2 separate regions of the Homo sapiens genome follow, and region 1 is linked to region 2. Evidence: fine-mapped expression QTL. A gene starts in region 2. The other region holds a variant in brackets. All regions are shown on one strand. Distances are from middle to middle. Region 1 has its middle 45 kb from the start of THAP12. Region 2 holds the start of THAP12 (THAP domain containing 12).

What was found. PIP is the estimated chance that this variant, and not a neighbour inherited with it, causes the effect. A credible set is the group of variants that fine-mapping cannot tell apart.
Region 1: its variant is the best candidate, but not a certain one, in a credible set for the expression of THAP12 in whole blood (TOPMed, PIP 0.71).

The regions. Positions count from the first base shown.
Region 1 is chr11:76,333,682-76,338,067 of GRCh38, forward strand. No RefSeq gene overlaps it. Among named protein-coding and RNA genes, the nearest start is that of THAP12, 45 kb to the right of the region's middle. The variant G/A (reference allele first, on the strand shown) is at 2,430.
Region 2 is chr11:76,378,455-76,382,817 of GRCh38, forward strand. THAP12 (THAP domain containing 12) reads right to left here and starts at 2,678. Exons shown (of 5, transcript NM_004705.4): 1 at 2,294-2,678. The coding sequence starts at 2,382. It overlaps GVQW3 (GVQW motif containing 3), which reads left to right and starts at 2,869. Exons shown (of 2, transcript NM_001347885.2): 1 at 2,869-3,839. The coding sequence starts at 3,375. RefSeq lists an enhancer at 1,883-2,384 and a silencer at 2,027-2,956.

The DNA of each region.
Region 1 (4,386 bases), 45 kb before region 2:
CACCTTTGGAGAAGGAAACTGGAGACTGAAGGAGCCAAGGGTGGGAGGAAAACGCTTCAAAGTGCACCCTAGTGCACTGTTTGGAATATATTAATACCATAAGCCCATGGTAGCTTTTTCAAAAAACAGTCAATCAGCTGGGCACGGTGGCTCACACCTGTAATCCCAGCACTTTGGGAAGCCGAGGCGGGCAGATCACCTGAGGTCAGGAGTTCAAGACCAGCCTGGCCAACATGGCCAAATCCCGTCTCTACTAAAAATACAAAAATTAGCCAGGTGTGGCGGCACGCTACTCGGGAGGCTGAGGCAGGGGAATTGGCTGAACCTGGGAGGTAAAGGTTGCAGTGAGCCGAGATCGTGCTACTGCACTCCAGCCTAGGCAACAGGGTAAGGCTCTGTCTCAAACAAACAACCAGTCAATTCCCCACTCCCTCAAATAAAGACGTTCCATGACACAAAAGGATTTTTGGTGAAATAAGTTTGGTACATGCAGGGTTAAGTGATGTTCAAGTGTCTTTGCTGCATAGGTTTGGGGTGGGGTGGCCTTTAACATGCTGCTGGGTCTGGTGAACCCATCTGAGGCCTGGTGCTCTCTACGCTTGCTGCTGGGACCATTTTTCCAGTCCATCTGATGTGGTTTGGCTCTGTGTCCCCACCCAAATCTCATGCTGAATTGTAATCCCCAGTGCTGGAGGAGGGGCCTAGTGGGAGGTGATTGAATCACGGGGGTGGTGGTTGTGAACAAAATGCTGATAGTGATATGGACAATGAAGTCCAGGCTAAAGAGGTCTCAGATGGAGATGAGAAACTTATTGGGAACTGGTGTAAACGTCACTCTTGCTATGCTTTAGCAAAGAGACTGGCAGCATTATGCCCCTGTGCTCTAGGGATTTCTTGAACTTTGAACTTGAGAGAGATGATCTGGGGTATCTGGTGGAAGAAATTTCTAAGCAGCAAAGCATTCATGATGTGGCCTCACTGCTTCTAAAAGCCTACACTCACCTGCATAAACAAAGAAATGACTTGAAATTGGAACTTATATTTAAAAGGGAAGCAAAGCACAAAGATGTGGACAATTTGCAGCCTGGCCATGTGGTAGAAAAGGAAAACACATTTTCGGGGAAGGAATTCAAGCTGGCTTCAGAAATTTGCATAAGAGGAGCTTTACTTATTAAATACTTAATTACATTAAAGCATGTTAATAGCCAAGGCAATGGGGAAAATGCGTCCATAGCATTGCAGAGATCTTTGCGGCAGCCCTTCCCATCACAGGCCTGGAGGCCTAGGAGGGAAGAATGGTTTCACTGGCTGGGCCCAGGGCCCTGCTGTCTTGCGCAACCTTGGGACACTGCTCCCTGCGTCCCAGCCATGCCTAACAGGGGCCAAGCTGTATCTCAGGCTACTGTTCAAAAAGTGCAAGCAAGTCTTGGCAGCTTCCTGTGGGTGCACAGAGAGCAAGAGCTGAGGCTTGGGAGCCTCCACCTAGATTTCAGAGGATATATGAAAACACCTGGATGTCCAGGCAGAAGTCTGCTGCAGGGGTGGAGCCCTCATGGAGAACCTGTACTAGGGCACTGTGGAGGAGAAATGTGGGGCTGGAGCCCCCACACAGTCTCCACTGGGGCACTGCCTAGTGGAGCTGTGGGAAGACGGCCACCATCCTCCAGATGGCAGAATGGTAGATCCATCAACAGCTTGCACCCTGTAGCTGGAAAAGCCACAGGCACTCAACACCAGACCATGAAAGCAGCCAAGGGGTCTATATCCTGCAGAGCCACAGGGGTGGAGCTGCCCAGGACTTTGGGAGCCCACCCCTTGCATCAATGTGGCCTGAATATGAGATATGGAGTCTTAAGAGATTATTTTGGAACTTTGAGATTTAATGACTGCCCTGCTGGATTTTGGACTTGCATGGGCCTGTAGCCTCTTTGTTTTGGCCAATTTCTCCCTTTTGGAATGGCAGCATTTACCCAATGCCTATACCCACACTGTATCTTAGAAGTAACTAACTTGCCTCTGATTTTATAGGCTCATAGGTGAAAGGGATTTGCCTTGTCTCAGATGAGAATTTGGATTGTGGACTTTTGAGTTAAAACTTAGGGAACTATTGAGAAGTAATTATTGTGTTTTTAAGTGTGAGGACATGAGATTTGGGAGGGGCCAGGGGTGGAATGATACAGTTTGGCTCTGTGTCTCCACCCAGATCTCAGGTTGAATTATAATCCAGTGTTGGAGGGGAAGGCTTGTGGGAGTTGACTGAATCATGGGGGTGGTTTCTAATGATTTAGGCACATCCTCCAGTGCTGTCTTGTGACAGAGTTGTCATGAGATCTGGTTTTTTGAAAGTGCATAGCACCTCCCCCTTTCCTCTCTCTCTTCCTCCTGCTACAGCCATGTAAGATGTGCCTACTTCCTCTTTGCCTTCCACT[G/A]TGGTTGTAAGTTTCCTAAGGCCTCCCAGCCATGCTTCCTGTACAGCATGTGGAACCATGAGCTGATTAAACCACTTTTCTTTATAAATTACCCAGTCTCAGGTAGTTCTCTACAGCAATGCAAGAATAGACTAATACAGCATCCCTGAGGACTAGTATTCTGTGTATTAGATGTTGGGGATCACCACCTCCAGAAGCAAGTACAAATGCCCTCACCTTCCTGTACACACACACACACACACACACACACACACACACACACACCTCCCAGCTTTTCCTGAAGTGCATTCCTCAGGCCACTGATCTGAGATTCTCCATGGTCAAACATTCCTGGGAAACACTGCTCTGTCAAAGTAAATGACAAAGTAAATGACAAATGATCACCAACATTTCTCCGAGACTTTAATACTTCTCTGCCTTAGCTCCCACCATTCTTTCCATCGGGACTGCTTTTGTTTTAACTCGTTTCTCTCTGCCAAAGTTCTATGTCATCTGTCAAGGGTTGAATCTCATGCTTTTTGCACCATGATGAAGGCTTCTTGGATCCTAACAAAGTGCTTGAGGTGCCTGACGGGTGTCCCCACTCATTGAAAGAAATAAATTACTGAGTGCAATAGGGGAATGACTGAAAGGAGGGAGGAGGAAGTGATAGGTGGATGGGGAAGTGGAGAATTAGATCATTGGGAGTGATTGTGACCGGGTTAATGAGTGGTGGCATGCAGTAGTTTGCTATTCCTGTCCACAATTCTACTCATTGTGGGTGGTTTAGGCAGGATCTTGAGCTCTACAGGTTGGACTGAGGTTCCCACAGTAGCCTGTTGGTGGCTCTTGGGCAGCCCCCAGAAACAGGTGAAAGGTCCCTCTCCTCAGCCTTCCCCTTGGTCTCTCATTCTTTTCTGAGAATGAGAACACTGCCACCAAGTCTCTGCCACCACTGGACAGTGATCTAGGAGTGTCTTGCTGCATTGCCTGTTCTTGTCCTTTAGACCATCCCCATGGGCACTCCAGAGGAGAGGGCACCTGAATTAGTTTGACCAGAGAAACTGGTAGGGCTCTGTGGAAACTGGGCTGTACTCACTTCCCACCCAGATTCTGCAGCTCACTGGACACCCCTATACTGCCCCTCTCAGGGGCCATAGGAGGGTGGACCTCCAAAAGGACCCAAAATGGGGAGGCCTATTGACCTGCTTATCCTCATTTATTTTTTATTTATTTTTATTTTTTGAGACAGGGTCTCACTGTCACCCAGGCTGGAGAGCAGTGGCACAATCATGGCTCACCACAACCTGGACCTCCTGGGCTCAGGTGATCCTCCCACCTCAGCCTCCCTAGTAGCTGGGACCACACAAGTGCACCACCATGCCTAGGTAATTAAAAAAAAAAAAAATTAATGGAGACAAGGTCTCACCATGTTGCCCAGGCTGGTCTCAAACTGCTGGGCTCAAGTGATCAGCCTACCTCAACCTCCCAAAGTACTGGGATTACAGGCATGAGCCACAGCACCTGGCCTGACCTACTTATCCTTATAAGCAATTTCCTCTGGAACCGTCACATCAGCAAATTGTCTACCCTCTTTGAACCTCATTTCCTCCTAACTCTACAATGGGTCTATCTATCTCACAGGCTAGTTTTAAGTTAAAGTAGATTAAAGTGCCTGGCCTATAGTAGGTCCCTAGCAGCAGTTACTTTCCTCCTTTTCCCCAGTCCTGATTCTGAGCTGCTAGACAGAGACTATTTTTCAGTTTTCCATCATGTGGTGTCAGGACACTGAATGTAGGATAAGTTGGGATGATGGGAGGGGGCAGCTGTGGCCCAGTCCATGTCAAATACAGGTGTGCAAATTTTAAAAGAAGCCTCACTGCACCTCTGCCTGCCCCCCTCCTCCCACTCCAGGGAAGGCTTTCCTGAGCCTTTCCCCTTCAAGGATTGCTTTTATTGTGCCATCTTGTAACTAGCC
Region 2 (4,363 bases):
AAATCTAAAGTCATGAAGATTTATCTGTATTTTTTTCCTAAAAGTTTAATGACATAGCTCTTATATTTAGGCCTTTGATCTCAATAAAAGTATAGGCCATTTGGAGTTCATTTCTGTATATGGTATGAAGAAAGACATCTATTCTTTTTTTTTTTTCATCTATTCTTTCTTTCTTGAGACGGAGTCTTGTTCTGTCACCCTGACTGGAGTGCAGTGGCACGATCTCGGCTCACTGCAACCTCTGCCTCCTGGGTTCAAGCGATTCTCACGTCTTGGCCTCCTGAGTAGCTGGACAGGCACGCACCACTGGGCTCAGCTAATTTTTGTATTTTTTAATAGAGACAGGGTTTCCCTATGTTGGCCAGGCTGGTCTCGAACTCCTGACCTCAAGTGATCCGCCTGCTTAGGCCTCCCAAAGTGCTGGGATTACAGGTGTGAGCCACCATGCCCGGCCTAGACATCTATTCTTGAATGTCTATCAGGTCTCTCAAACCCAAACTTCTAGTATTCCTCTACCAAACCTGCTCTTCCCAGTCTTCCCTATCTCAGCAAATGCTCACGTTAAAAATCTTGAAGTCGGCTGGGCGCGGTGGCTCAGAGCCTGTTCTAGCACTTTGGGAGACCGACACAGGAGGACTGCTTGAAGCCAGGAGTTCAAGACCAACCTGGCCAACATAGATTTTTAAAATCTTGAAGTCGTCCTTAAGTTCTCTTTTTCTTTTACAATCTACCTCCAAACCATTAGCAAATGATGTTGGCTTCACCTTCAAACCATATCTCAAATTTACCATCTCCTCCTCTATTAATCTGGATTATTACAACAGCCTTTTAACTGGTCTTCCGGCTTTCACCTTTGCCTCCCCACAATCTAATGAGCAGCCACTGATCCTGTTAAAATTTAAGTCTCTGCTCTAAACCCTTCAATGACTTCCTATTTCACTCATAATAAAAACCATAGTGCCTTCCAAGACCTACAAGGTCCTACCTAAAGAATTTGCCCCTACCATACACACACCTTTCTGGTCTCATCTCACCTCTCTCCCAGTCCCTCTCCCTGGACTCCTGGTTGCCCTGTCTTTGCCTTCTTTGGAATGCTGCTGCCCAAGGTATCTCCATGGCTGGCCCCTTCACCTGGTCTTTGCTCAAATTCACCTTCTTAGTGAGGCCTTCTCTAATCACTGTATTTAAAATAGCAATTGTGCGTCCCTTGATACTACTTATTCCCCTACCCTCTAACCTTTGTTTATTTTTCTCCACAGTATTTATCATCATCCGACACACTACGTATTTTACTTGTTTATTCCCCCCCCATTAGAATGTAATCTTCATGAAAGCAAGGACTTCGATTTGTTCATCTGTAACCCCCACTGCTCACAACAATGCCAACACAAGTAGACCTTCAATAATTAATTGAACTAATTAATAAATAACATAAATTATAGTCGCCCGTTGCTGCACCTGTTCCCTTACTGGACTGAGAGCTTTCTGCAAGCAGTGACACCCTTATTCACCCATGAACTCCCAGCACCTAACATTTGCGCTCGGCACATAGTAGGCATTGATTTTAAATGAATGAACCAACAAGACAGGCCTATGAAACATCTCAGCCTTTCAAACACAGTCCCTATGCTATCATTCCCTAAATATGTCAGTGTGTGGGGGTTATCCGAAGGAAGAGGTTCCAATACCAATTTCCACGCCCTCACGCGTACACCCTCTGTTATCCCTACAATACCCAAGCGAGAAAATGAGTAACGGTGACAGCCAGAAAATGAATCCTGAACCGTGCAATGACAAGTCCGAAGGAGAAAGCAGTTGCGATGAGATGAAAGAAGGTAGCGGGACTCAAAACAGAAACACTGTCCCGGGGGTGGTGGCAAGGAGAGGGAAAGGCCCCAGTGGCCACAACCATAGAGTCCTGCTCTCTTTTGACAGCTAAGGAAACTAACGCCCAGAGAGGAAAGCGACTCCCCCGAGGTCACACAGCAAGTGAGCCACGGCGAGAACCCACAGCATCCCGCGTCCGCGCGCCGCCCCAGCTCCCTCGCGTTTGGGGTGGTGTCCTCCGCGCAGAGCCCCCACCAGCGCACGTGCTCCGAGGTCCCCGGACGCCCGCCCGCCCACGGCTCGGGGCCGGCTCCCCATCTCGGTCCAACGCTGGGGTCGACGGCAGTGCGCTGCGCCCGCCTCCTGCGCCCCTCTCAGCCAGCCCGGGAGCCCGCCAGGGGCCGGCGGCTGGCAGCGCTCACCGCGAAGGTGGGCCCGGGCCGCCCGCTCTGCGCCCGCCGCTTACCTGGCAGGGTCCCGCGGGAACCTGAAGAAGGCCAAGTCGGACTGCGTGCTCTTCCGCGTGCAGTTGGGGGCAGCGCAGAAGTTCGGCATCGTCGCCCGCCCGCCGGCCGGCCCAGCCCTCCCCTCCCCGCCTCCTCAGGGCAGTCCGCCCGCCCGTCGGGGCCGGGGAGGGGAGCCAGGCCGGCCGGCCGGCTCGGCAGGGCCGACGCGCGGGGGAGGGGCGGGCGGGCTAGAAGCCGCGAGGGCCAGGAGGGGTGCCGCGGTCCGAGGCCGGGCTGGGGACGCGGCTCCACAGTGCTGTGAGCGGCCGGGAGGATTTACCGCCGCCGCCGCCGCTGGTGCACCTCCCGCCCGCCCGAGACGCTGCCGCCTCCTTCCCACAATGCACCCTGACGCCCGGGGGTGCCCTCTCTTCCCTCAGCCTTCCTCCCCCGCCCCTCCTTTCCGCCTTCTCAGCAGGCGGGCACGCGCAAGGAAGCGCGCCTGCCGGGGTGTGGCGAGGCGGAGGCGGGACCTGGCGCGCGCCGCCGCAGTGCGACTGCGCACAGTCTAATCCGCGGGGAGAGAGAATTGCGCATGCGCGCCTGTCTCCCGGGACGCTAGAGCAGGCGGTTCCTGGGCTGCTCCGGTAGGTTTGGCGTGCGCGGGTTTCTGCAGATCTAGGGCGAGCTTGCACGTTACATCACCGATGCATCTCTTCTTGCTTGCTTAATTTGCCACCACTTAGGCCTTTCTTGCAGAATTCGCCATATACTCCTTAAGGGCCGCGGAATCGGAGCGACCTTGGTGACTGGCAAACTCTCGGCAGATGTGCGTGCACTGGTTTGATGCAGACGTGGTTGTAGGCGATTTAATTTTTCCCAGCTTTGCAGCGACTGTTGGCTTCCCAGAACGGATCTCCCCAGCCTCGACTGGAAGCTGAGGGACAAAAATTCATAAAAGCAATTACTCTTTCCCGGCGAGGCTTCTAGAAGAGCAAGAAGAGCGATATGATTACACCTGCAGCCCTATAAAGATTGATCTGTCCGTCTTTCCCTTACAGTCGTGGCCTGTTAAACGTTCCTGTGTTGTTCAGTGCCAGAATGAGTGACCGCTATTTAGAACAAAGGATTAGTATCAAATTTTGCGTGAAATTGAACAAGTCTGCAAGTGAGACCCACCATCTTTTAAAAGAAGCTTATGGGGATGAAGTCATGTCAAGGGCCAGAGTTTTTGACTGGCACAAAAGGTTTAAAGAAGGACGGGAAGATGTTCGAGATGATGCCCGAAGTGGGCGTCCAGTCACCCACCGAACAGATGACAATATCCAGAAGGTCAAGGACTTGGTTTGTTCAAACAGGCAGTTAACCGTGAGGATGATGGCTGAAGAGTTAAATTTAGACAAAGAAACTGTTAGGCTCATTTTGAAAGAAAACTTGAACATGAGGAAGATTTCTGCAAAAGTTATTTCGGGTGTTTTGAAGGGTGAGCCTAAACCACGAAAACTTGACTTTCGGTCCGATCTTTCAAAGGAAACTAGGAAAAATAGCTCATGTTTGAGGAAAAAGGTAACAGGTTCTGAAACATGGAGTTATCTCCAGGGTGAAGCTGGTGGGGAAATGCCCCTGCCGGTATCCCATCCCAGAGTCCACTACTCTGCCAGTCAGCTTCTGCAGGCGTCATCTTCAACAAGCCTTCCCCCCAGGGTAGCTGAGAATTGGTTCACCCCATGGTGAGAGGAATGTGAGTTAGCTGAACCAGAACTAGGATGCTGCCTCACTGTTAGGCACCTTCTTTGGCTGCTCACGTATTTTTCAGTCTTCACCACTCCTCCCTATGTGCCATGGCCCTCCTCATTACTCTTTGCTGGACTCTTGGACCATTTTCCTTGCTGTTCTCCATAACTTTGAAAAACTTTTGGCTGTTCCCTTCTGGTATTTGCTTGTTCTTGATTTCTTTTGCTCAACAAGTTTGGATTTCTTCTCTGCCCAGACCTTAGCTTGTTGTGGCTGTCCTGTTCCTTTGTTCTCAACCTTCTGCCTCAGAGGATCATGCCAGTGAGAAGAGAGGAACAGGATCTCCTGGAATCTGT